3 linked regions of the Homo sapiens genome follow. The protein of the gene in region 1 purifies or fractionates together with the protein of each later gene. This does not show direct contact. Each region holds a gene or a part of one and is shown on either strand. Other genes may lie near its edges.

Evidence for each region.
Region 2: the proteins of OR4N2 (region 1) and ABCA2 purify together in Homo sapiens (affinity purification with mass spectrometry; one large-scale study listed by BioGRID and IntAct). This does not show direct contact.
Region 3: the proteins of OR4N2 (region 1) and RHBDD1 purify together in Homo sapiens (affinity purification with mass spectrometry; one large-scale study listed by BioGRID and IntAct). This does not show direct contact.

The regions. Positions count from the first base shown.
Region 1 is NC_000014.9:19,820,701-19,824,351, reverse strand, and holds part of OR4N2 (olfactory receptor 4N2), read right to left. Parts: intron 1-3,651.
Region 2 is NC_000009.12:137,018,107-137,021,757, forward strand, and holds part of ABCA2 (ATP-binding cassette sub-family A member 2), read right to left. Parts: intron 3,505-3,651; coding exon 3,286-3,504; intron 2,956-3,285; coding exon 2,588-2,955; intron 2,390-2,587; coding exon 2,230-2,389; intron 1,201-2,229; coding exon 1,072-1,200; intron 965-1,071; coding exon 797-964; intron 710-796; coding exon 613-709; intron 246-612; coding exon 72-245; intron 1-71. UniProt on the Homo sapiens protein: Probable lipid transporter that modulates cholesterol sequestration in the late endosome/lysosome by regulating the intracellular sphingolipid metabolism, in turn participates in cholesterol homeostasis.
Region 3 is NC_000002.12:226,842,505-226,846,155, reverse strand, and holds part of RHBDD1 (rhomboid-related protein 4), read right to left. Parts: intron 1-3,651. UniProt on the Homo sapiens protein: Intramembrane-cleaving serine protease that cleaves single transmembrane or multi-pass membrane proteins in the hydrophobic plane of the membrane, luminal loops and juxtamembrane regions.

The sequences.
Region 1 (3,651 bases):
ATTCTGTACTACTTGACTTCTTGATGAACTTTCTTCCCTGTCCCATTTCCATCTTTCAATTATCTCTACCTTCTCTAAATGGTGGTTGGAATAGACGCAGAGTCTAATCAGATGAGCATTCCTCTAAGCAAAATAAAATAAGTTTCTGCCAAAAAAAAAATCCATATATGATGGCATCAGCAGAGTAAAGTGTTCTATTTTAGGCAAATTAGTAGAGAAAGTTCTGTCAAAAGTCTGTACCATACCCTCCTCACTGTATCTCTAATCCTTCTTGCCATTTCAGCTAATTCGTGCATTGATCAGTTTCTGGCCATGATGACACACTACAGAAATAGGGAAGATGAAGGAGAAGGGTTCACCACATTTGCAGGGTGGAGACACAGAAACATCTCCAGGCAACTCTGTGTGTGCATGCCTGGAGTCTGAGTGTGGTCAGATGAGCTCCTGGAGCCAAGTGTTTAGAGATCCTATGTGCTTACTCAACCTCCTTCCTTATTTTTCTTTTTCTCTCTTTCTTTATTCATCAATAAGCAGTTTATTTTCTTTTTTTTTTTCTGGTTGTGATTTCTTTTCCCTGTTAATTTGTTGCCTGTTCTTTTCCCCTTCTCTGTTTCTTTCTGGCTCTATTTATTTTGTTCTCTTTAAATATTGTTCTTTATTATTTTTTCTTTCTTCTCCCTTACATTTATCTATGTTTTTTCACTCTGATATGTTTTCACTCTCTCCACTTTTCGTCTATGTTCATGGCTACTCCATTCTACCCCACACCTGTCTTGCTAATACATCTAAAAACAAAACAAAACAAAAACCAGAAAATCTTATTGTCATTTTCTTTCCCAACAAGAGTGAGAAATGTGTGTGCTTCCCACCATCTTCCATTTTAAATATTAAGTCTACAAAATGAAAATATATAATTCACTCTTCAGTAATAACCATTTACTTTTAAGTGGTATTCTTGCAGTTGGCCAACGCTGAGTCACTTATCAACTACTTCATACTTGTAAGTGAACCTGATAAAAATGAGATGATTCACCTTTTTTTTAAAAAAAAGAAGTTAATTTCATTAGTAGCATCCTAATGAAATAAATATATTGAATACAAATTTCAAAAATAGGGATGTAATATTAGTAGTAATAGCTCACTAATGATGCAAGGTTAGTAAATTATTTGAGTATGAAATAATAAGTTTTATATTTTCTAAAAAGTGTGAATCAGGCTGAGAACATAATAGAAAATTTAATTTATGCTGATGCTGCTGATGAGTATATAAAGCACTAAACAAATGTATAGATTCTTAGCCAGAAAATTTATTCATCAATCAAATGAGATGGCCAGATTAAATGGCCTCTAAATTCCATTTGAATGCCAGTTTTTTAGGCAATGTAATAACATAAAAGGATCCCTGGTTTGGGAATCATTTATCTGACTCTCATGCCTTGAATGAGCAATTAACTTATTGTGTGATTCTGGGAAAGTCACTTAGCTTTCAGAAGCCTGAGTTGTCATCTACCAAATAGTTTAATGTATTGACTCTTTGGGTCTGATGGGGGTAACATGAGGATCAAATGAGGTGATGATGGTATTAATATGTAATTCATTCAAGTACACTTCAACCAAAGTTAATCCTGAAAATATTTAGATGTTAAAAGTAGTTATATTGAATGGACAGAATGCTGCTAGATCTTTTGTCAATGTCTTTGAGTAACCCCTGGGATAATGGTAGTTGCATAAATCTGAAAAGTTAATAGAGAGAAGTTGTGGAGGGTCAGTAATGCCTTCATGTAAAATTGCCAGTACAGCTAGTGGTTTGTATATCAAGCTTTTTTTTGGTTCTACAACTTTCTGTCAAAATTCTAAGAATGAATGATATAACCACATGCAACAGAAGAAACTTTCATACCTGCTGAATGTGAAAATGAAGAGGTCAAGGACTTATCTTCTGCAAAATCATAAAATCTGTTAAGTTTTTCTCTGGAGCTTTTAGCCTACCATTTCTGCATCCTCCTCCCTTTTCTTCCATATTTAATAAGGAAAATGATACATATCAGTCATTTGTATGATTTTTGGTTTTTAACACCAGATGTCAATTCTCTTGAGTCTATGGAAAATTATAATAGAATTAAAGGTTTTGTTTGCCAGTAAAGTAATCCCAAGCATTAAATGCAGATGGAGATCTATTAGGAGAGAGAGTACATAGTGCCCCACTGCTGAATTTAGACCTTAGCCTGTGGCTATTCCTGCTAATACTCTGACCTGTCTATTCAACTGCAATCTAAGATATCAGGTGAACAAGTAAAATAGTTGCAATATTTTTTCTATTGTCCCTTTCTTCTTGTTTCTTGTATATATATGAAGAGCTCCAGAAATTTAAGCCTTCAGGGATCTTATGTTACTCTCACAAAGTAGGCATCCTCCCTCTCCTAGTAAGACTAACCAGTTTTGCCATTGTTCATAAATGTTCATTGCCACATGAGGAACCTTAGATTTTAAAATCTCTCTATTGTAATGGAGAAAGTTCTTTTGAGATTTGAGACTACCATGACCCACTGAATGCTTCCAAAGGGAGTTATTAGGCAAGCTATATTAGTTATCAAATAAATAAGGCAAAGAAAAATACCAGAGTTTGCAAGAACTAAATTTTTTTAAATGTGCTACATAATACCAAGCTGACTTACTTTCTAGTTCTAAAACAAAAATTCTATCGTGAGAAAGACAGAACCCTATTCAGAAGCATATTTTTTAGTCCAGAAATAAATAGAAGTTTGAGAGAAGTAAATTTACGTGTTATAATAAAATTCAAAAGGAGAAAAATATTAAATAAATGATGAGAGATTATTGCTTTGTACCACGAAAGCAAGCAGGGGTAGGATGAGGCAAAAAATACATATATACATATATATATATATGACTAGACTCAAATTTTTCAATTAAAGGCTTCACCAAACTTTAGACGGTGGCTGGCAAGATGGCCAAATAAGAGCAACTCTGGTCTGCAACTCCCAGCAAGACCAACGCAGAAGGTTACTCACAGAAGATTTCTGCATTTCCAACTGAGGTACCCAGCTCATCTCATTGGGACTGGTTAGACAGTGGGTGCAGCCCACGGAGGGTAAGCCAAAGCAGGGTGGGGCATCACATCACCGGGGAAGTGGAAGGGTTCAGGGAACTCCCTCCCCAGCCAAGGGAAGCCGTGAGAGACTGTGCCGAGAGGAAAGGTGCATTCTGATTCAGATACTAGGCTTTTCCCATGGTTTTTGCAACCTGCAGACCAGGAGATTCCCTCAGGTGCCTACACCACCAGGGCCTTGGGTTTCAAGCACAAAACTAGGCAGCCATTTGGGCAGACACTGAGGTAGATGCAGGAGTTTTTTTTCATACCCCAGTGGCACCTGGAATGCCAGCAAGATAGAACTATTCACTCCCCTGGAAATGGGGCTGAAGCCAGGGATTCAAGTGGTCTATCTCAGTGGATCCCACCCCCATGGAGCCCAGCAAGCTAAGATCCACTGGCTTGAAATTCTTGCTGCCAGCACAGCACTCTGAAGTTCACCTGGGACACTCGAGCTTGGTTGGGGTAGGGGCATCTGCCATTACTGAGGCTTGAGTAGGCACTTTTCCCTTCACAGTGTAAATAAAGCCACCAGGAAGTTT
Region 2 (3,651 bases), on another chromosome or scaffold:
CAGGCCCTCTCGTCCTCACACCTGTCCTCCCCCATGAATCCTCCAGCCGGTCTTCCGGGCCTGCTCCTCACCCTGGATCCAGACGAAGCCGTAGAGGAAGTAGAAGCGGCCGCCAGTATTGGGCCCAGGCCGCCAGTAGGCGCGGCGGATCTCGTTGGTTTTCTCGGTGAAGCTGGAGTTCTGGCGGATCTTGTAGTGCACGTGAGGCGGGAGCGAGCCGTCCTTCCGGGTCTGGAAGATCACACCTGGGGCCGGGAGGTTGGGGCGGGGCCAAGATGCAGGGGCGGGACCAAGGCGTGGTGGGGGGGAAAGCAAGGCACGGGGGCGGGGCCAAGGTGTGGGGGCGGGGACAGGAGGGTCCAGGGAAAGGTGGGACAGGGCTGGGGTGGGGGCCCCAGGGGAAAGGTGGGCAGAAGTGGGGAGGTGCAGGGAGGGGGCGGGTTGTGGGTTGGGGCCGTTTGGAAGGGGCAGGGGTGGGGAGGGGAAGTGGCGGGTGAGGGGGGAAGGCCAGGGCGCGGCCAAGGAGTGGGAGGGCACAGGGGGACGGGTGGGGCTGGGCTGGGGAGGAAGAGGTCTGTGGGGGGCTGGGGCGGGGCGGGGAGGGCAGCTCACTGGCAAAAACAGTGACGTTGTCCTGGTAGGCCTGGTTGAGGGTGTAGTTGACAATGCTCTCCTCGTCGGGGAAGCCCTTGAAGATGTCCACGCTCACCTAGCGGGAGGGGCATCGCTGGAGCCCGCCGTGGGCATGTGCGAGGCAGGGGGTGTCGTGGGTTGGCTCGGAGGCCCCACCGCTCACCTTGGACATGAACTGGATCCAGCCGCAGGCCGCGTTGTCAATGGTATCCAGCTGCTGCAGGAGGGCCATGCCACTGGGCAGCGAGAAGTTGTCCTGTCTCAGGGCCGGCGGCAGCTCATCCAGTGACAGGTTCAGTGCCTCGGGGTGCAGCCGCAGCTCTGCTACATACTTGGGGTGGAGGGGCGGCTCAGAGGGGGACCTGCGCCTGCCGAGCCGGGCAGAGAGGGGCTCCCCACACCACCCACAGCCGCCTCCCTCGCGGGCACCCTTGGCACCTGCTGCAGCCAGCGCAGGTGTTGCTGCAGCCTGCCCTGCTCCAGGAAGCTGCGGATCTCCGCCGAGATGTTGAGCCAGACCTGGGCATAGTGAGTCACGTTGCCCACAAAAGCAAAAGTCTCGTTGGCCTGCAGGGGGTGAGGCAGGGGCATGGAGTTTCTGGACGGACCCCCACCGACTTGGGGGCTCTCACCCCACTCACCTCCCCAGTGGCTGGTCCATTGCCAACAACTAACCCTCCCCACCTTTTTTTTTTTTTTTTTCCTGAGACAGGGTCTCAGTCACCCACGCTGGAGTGCAGTGGTGCAGTCCCAGCTCACTGCAGCCTCCACCTCCCAGGCTCAAGGGATCCTCCCGCCTCAGCCCTCCAAGTAGCTGGGATTACAGGTGCCCACCACCACGCCTGGCTAATTTTGTATTTTTGGTAGAGACGGGCTTCCGCTATGTTGCTCGGGCTTGTCTCAAACTCCTGAGCTCAAGCGATCCTCCCACCATGGCTTCCCAAAGTGCTGGGATTTCAAGCGTGAGTCCCACGCCCGGGCTCTCCACTCCTTTCTGCGGCGCTCAGGTGAAACCTGCTTTGCCCTCCACTCCCAGGGCAGCACGGCCTCCGGACCCCCAACTGCCCAGCTGTGCCCACCAGCTCCTTTGCTGGACCTGTCTCCATGTGTCCCTTAAGCACCCAATGCTCCACCCTCATCTGTCCCACCCTCATCCTAGGGACCCCCTCTACACCCAGGATTGGCCTCGTCCACAGGCCCTCCCCTCCCAGGCCAATGTCCAGCCCTGGCCTCTGCTTGTTCCAGACAGGACCCCTCACCCAGAACCCAAACTGCCCAGCTGCCCGCCCACGAGACACTCTGGAAGGTCTCTGGACACACCCCTCCTCCACCAGCACTGCCCTGGACCGGCCACCCCCAGCCGGAGGACCCTGCCAGAGCAGACTCTCCAGTGCCTTCCCACAGCAGCCCCTGGAGCTCCCGAAAGGAAAAGCGACCCCCTGGTCCCCCACCTGCAGAGCCTGTGTCCCATCCGAAGCTGCACCCCGTACCCCTCCCGTGTCAATTCTGCCGACACCCTCTGCCCAGGGGTCCCAGGCCTGCAGAGACCCCCTCCCACTCTGCCTGTCAAACATGGAGCGTCCCAGACCCGTGCACCTTGAGGATGACGCGGTCGACCTCAGAGCCCGCAGGCGCGTACAGGATTTTGGGGTTGCTGGTCATGAGGTGCACGAGGAGGCCCAGGTTCCGCTGCTCCTTGCTCGTGAAGCCCAGGGAGCTCATGTTGCCCCGCCGCAGCGCCTCGGGTTCAATGGTGCTGGGGTAGGGGACAGGGGGCCGGGCCAGGCCGTTAGGGGGCAGGGCCGCGAGAGTGGGAGGGGCATCGGGATGGGGCAGGACTTCGGGGCACAGGGCAGGGCGCCAAATGAGACCTCCAGAGCCAGAGCCTAGATTCAGGGCTCACGCCCTGCCCCTGGCTGTCCTCCTCACCCCCATTCCCCTGCCGCCCACCTACCGGTTGTTGCCACACAAGATGGGCTGCAGGCCGGCCCAGAGCTGTACGAAGGCTGAGCACTGGCCCTGCAGCGTGTCCGGGGTGGCCAGTGCTGCAGCAGAGGGTGCGCCCTCCTCAGCGGTGGCGTTGGGGCCCATGACTGCCCCTGCCCCAGTGCCATTGGCCGCCCCACCCGCACCACTGGCTGGGGGTCCGGGGGTCCGGCCAGTGCAGGCACCCTGGGGCAGTAGCAGGGCCAGGGCCGACAGGACATCCACATCCTGCAGAACCTTCTGGGCATCCAGCAGGTCCCCCAGAAGCGCCTGCAGCCTCCGTGGGGGTGGCGCCTGTGGCGAGGAGTCCGAGCCGTTGGGGGCATCCAGGCCCAGCTGAGGGGAAACAGGCACGTGGGCAGTGCGGGGTGAGATGGACTGCAGGTGGGTGATAGGTCAGGAGTGGAGCAGGGAGACAGCAGCAGGGAGACACAAGCTAGGGGTGCTGGGAGGGAGTCTGCAGCCTGGGTAACGGGAGCCCAGGACAGGAGCTGGGATGGTGAGCAGGAGTGGGGCACCAGCCATGGTGCCATTGGATACCCACCCACAGGCAGCATCCCACGCACAGCCTGGGCCCAGGAGCCCTGAGCTCTCCAAGCGGTCCCAGCCCCTCCTTCAACTCAGGCAGCAAGCAGCGCAGCGGGCAGTGGGCAGGCAGGGCCTCACCTGCTGGGAGACCTTGGCCACGTCCAGCTGGTTCCGGAGCTCAGCAGACAGCCCAGAGAAGCGCCTGGCACGCGCAGCAGCCTGCCCACTGCAGACAGCATCCCGGTAGCCCTGCAGGGCTCCCTTCTGACTCTCAGGCACAGTGAGGATCCGGCCCAGCTCCCCCGAGCCCGGCGTGCAGGTGAGCTGCTCCAGGAGGGCAGGAGCCAGCAGCAGCTCCTGGGATGGGCACAGGGGTCCGTGGAGCCACGGCAAGGACTTTGTCCCCAACCACTAGGGCCTCAGGCCTCACCCTGCCCCACCCACTGGCTGGCTCTGGGGCTGCCTGGGTCCCACGACATGCCTCTACCCCTCATGCCTGCCATA
Region 3 (3,651 bases), on another chromosome or scaffold:
GGCCAGATGCTTTTAGTAAGATAAATACATATAATATTCACTGTGAGTATATAATCCTGACCACCAATTTCAACAAAGAAATAATGGAAAAATAAAAACAAGAACCCAAGATCAGATGTTCTGACAGCACATGCAGCTCAATGAACAAATTGCATTTACATTCATTGTGCATGTTTCACTTTCAGACAGCACACAAGGTCAAACTACTAACTGTCAGTTACAATAAGCTTCTAAACTTCTGGTCAATTACCTGGCTAATAACAAAAGACAAGGCTATGACATCATTATGGTTATAATTAATTTACACAGATCAGCTTCCTGTTAATCAAATATATCTTTAAAAGCATTTAATTATTTTTCACCTAGAAAGCAACATTCAGCTTTGTTAAATGAAAAGCAATCTTGCTGAATTTAACACGAAAGGCTGTCAGGCTGCTCTAAGACATAAAGAACAAATGGCTTCACAGGGCACACTGCTGCAATACAGGAGCTGTTGCCACATTCCCAACAAACAGAAGCACAAGATGATGGATAATACAACACATTTTAACAGTTTCAGAATATAAAGAAGTTGTCAGGGAACTGAAAGTAAAGAGATGGGCTTTGGGAAAAGAAATGTCCCAGTGCTTTTTGCCAAAATTATATACAAGGGTGGCAATATTAACATATGCAGCATAGGACAGCAGTTAAGGGCATGGTCCTTGGCTCTACGATACACCAGCCACGTGCTCTTAGGAAAGTTAACCTTCAGAGTTTCACTTGTAAAAGATAACATAGGCTCATTTGGTTTCACAAGGATTAAATGGGATTATATATGTATATATATTTATTACACAAAATCACAAATTGTGACAAATCAGACTTAAAATAGTTTTAAAATGTTTTTGTGATAACATAGTAACTAATTAGCATTTTCCATGACTTTCTGTGACCCTACATTTTAAAACTGCATAGTGTGATTAAATTACACATGCATTTTTTAAAAAGTATAACAAATATAGAGAAGAAACCTGAAAGCAGAAATTATGTTTTTCATTAAAATAAACTTTATGTAAAATCTCAAACCAGGATCTCTGTCAAGATTATCTGATGATTTGAGAATTTAATAAGCCTCCATTTTAGGAAGAAAAAAAAAATGTCAGCATCAGCTGGCAAAATTCTTTCTCCACCTTTTAAAAGTGTTATATAGTATAAATGAAAATGATTAGACTATATTTATACATAAAAAATAATGGCTAAAAAATGAAATTACCAGATTTTGTATATAATCTTAAATTTTGCTCCACTGCTAGGTGAATTAGTGCCAACTCCAATTCTGACCCATCACCATTTATGATTTCCAGTATCAATCATAAGCCAGTTTCTTCTCTCATAAACCACACGGTTTAGTGTAATGAGGGCTCATTAAAGTTCTCCAACTGACAGCCCTTCAGACCTAGGTTTTTAAACCAGGAGGCACACAGGGAACAGCAATGCCAGCGTCCCATGATCGCTCCTTCAACAGGATTTAAGTAGTTCCATATTCAGGTTTACTCTGCACCAGATTTCTTTGTCTACCTAAAGTCAATGAAAAAATGAGAGCTACCACCACTCCCTGCTCTCATTTAAATTAATCTGTGTAAGAAGTGTTTGTGAATTATTTATGTAACTCAAGTCTTCCCTGCACAACAACTAGTGAAAAGGGGGAAAAGCATGCCATGCTTCAAATATATGTTATATTACCACAAACCACATGGGATGTCCACAAATTATTAAGTGATAGGGAACAGCTTAGGGCTTTTTGCCTGCATAGCATCAATACTTCATTCTTTCAGTAACAGGAATCTGTCTCCCACTCCCATTGGATGCGGTCTTTGGCAAGGGGCCGGGGGGCGGGGGGCAGCTATCAATCAAGGGTGCCATTTCCAATACTGATCCAAGGTGATAGTGACCAAAGTTGGAATAATAACTATTTCCCTGGAATTTAAAAGTTGTGCTGAGAAACTATGTGACCAACAACTTTTGAAGCTGGTTCTCACAGCATTAATTTGAAGAGTTTTCCAGATCTACCAAGTCTCCCCAAACCTCAAGAGCTCACTTAGCTGCTGACCTTTATGCACATAAACCAGAAAATCTAGAAGAAATGGCTAAATTCCTGGACTCATACACCCTCCCAAGACTGAACCAGGAAGAAATTGAATCCCTGAATAGACTAATAAATGAGTTCTGAAATTGAGACAGTAACAAATAGCCTACCAACCAAAAAAAGCCCAGGACCAGATGGATTCACAGCTGAATTCTATCTACCAGGGTACAAAGAAGAGCAGGTATCATTCCTGCTGAAACTATTCCAAACAATTGAAAAGGAATGACTCCTCCCCAACTCCTTCTATGAAGCCAGCATTATGCTGATACCAAAACCTGGCAAGAGATACAACAACAAAAAGAAAAATTCAGGCCAATATCCTTGATGAACCTCAAGGCAAAAATCCTCAACAAAATACTGGCAAACTGCATCCACCAGCACATCAAAAAACTTATCTACCACGATCAAGTTGGCTTCATCCCGGGGTGCCAGGTTGGTTCAACATATACAAATTAATAAATGTGATTCATCACATAAGCAGAACTAAAGACAAAAACCACATGAGTATCTCAACTGATGCAGAAAAGGCCTTCGATAAAATTCAACATCCCTTCATGTTAAAAACTCTCAATAAACTAGGGATTAAAGGCACTTACCTCAAAATAATAAGAGCCATATATGACAAACCCACAGCCAATATCATATTGAATGGGCAAAAGCTAGAAGCATTCCCCTTGAAAACCAGCACAAGACAAGGATGCCCTCTCCCACCACTCCTATTCAACACAGTATTGGAAGTTCTGGCCAGTGCAATCAGGCAAGAGAAAGAAATAAAGTGTATTCAAATAGGAAGAGAGGAAGTGAAATTATCTGTTTGCAGATGACATGATCCTATATCTAGAAAACCCCATTGTGTCAGCCCAAAAGCTTCTTAAGCTGATAAGCAACTTCAGCAAAGTCTCAGGATACAAAATCAATGTGCAAAAATTGCTAGCATTCCTATACACCAACACCGGCAAGCAGAAAGCCAAATCATAAATGAACTCCCATTCACAACTGCTACAAAAAGAATAAAATACCTAGGAATACCGCCAACAAGGGAAGTGAAAGACCTCTTCAAGGAGAACTACAAACCACTGTTCAAAGAAATTAGAGAGGACACAAATGGAAAAACATTCCATGCTCATGAACAGAGAGAATCAATATCATGAAAACGGCCATACTGCCCAAAGTAATTTATAGATTTAATGCTATTCCCATTAAACTTTCATTGACATTGTTCGCAGATTTAGATAAAACTATTTTATGGAATCAAAAAGAGCCCAAGTAGCCAAAACAATTCTTAGCAAAAAGAACAAAGTTGGAGGCATCACACTACCAGACTTCAAACTATACTAAAAGGCTACAGTAACGAAAACAGCATGGTACTGGTACAAGAACAGATACATAGACAGATGGAACAAAATAGAGAACTCAGAAACGAGACCACACAACTACAACAACTTGATCTTTGACAAACCTGGCCAAAACAAGAAATAGAGAAAGGATTCCCTATTTAATAAATGGTGCTGGGAGAAATGGGTAGC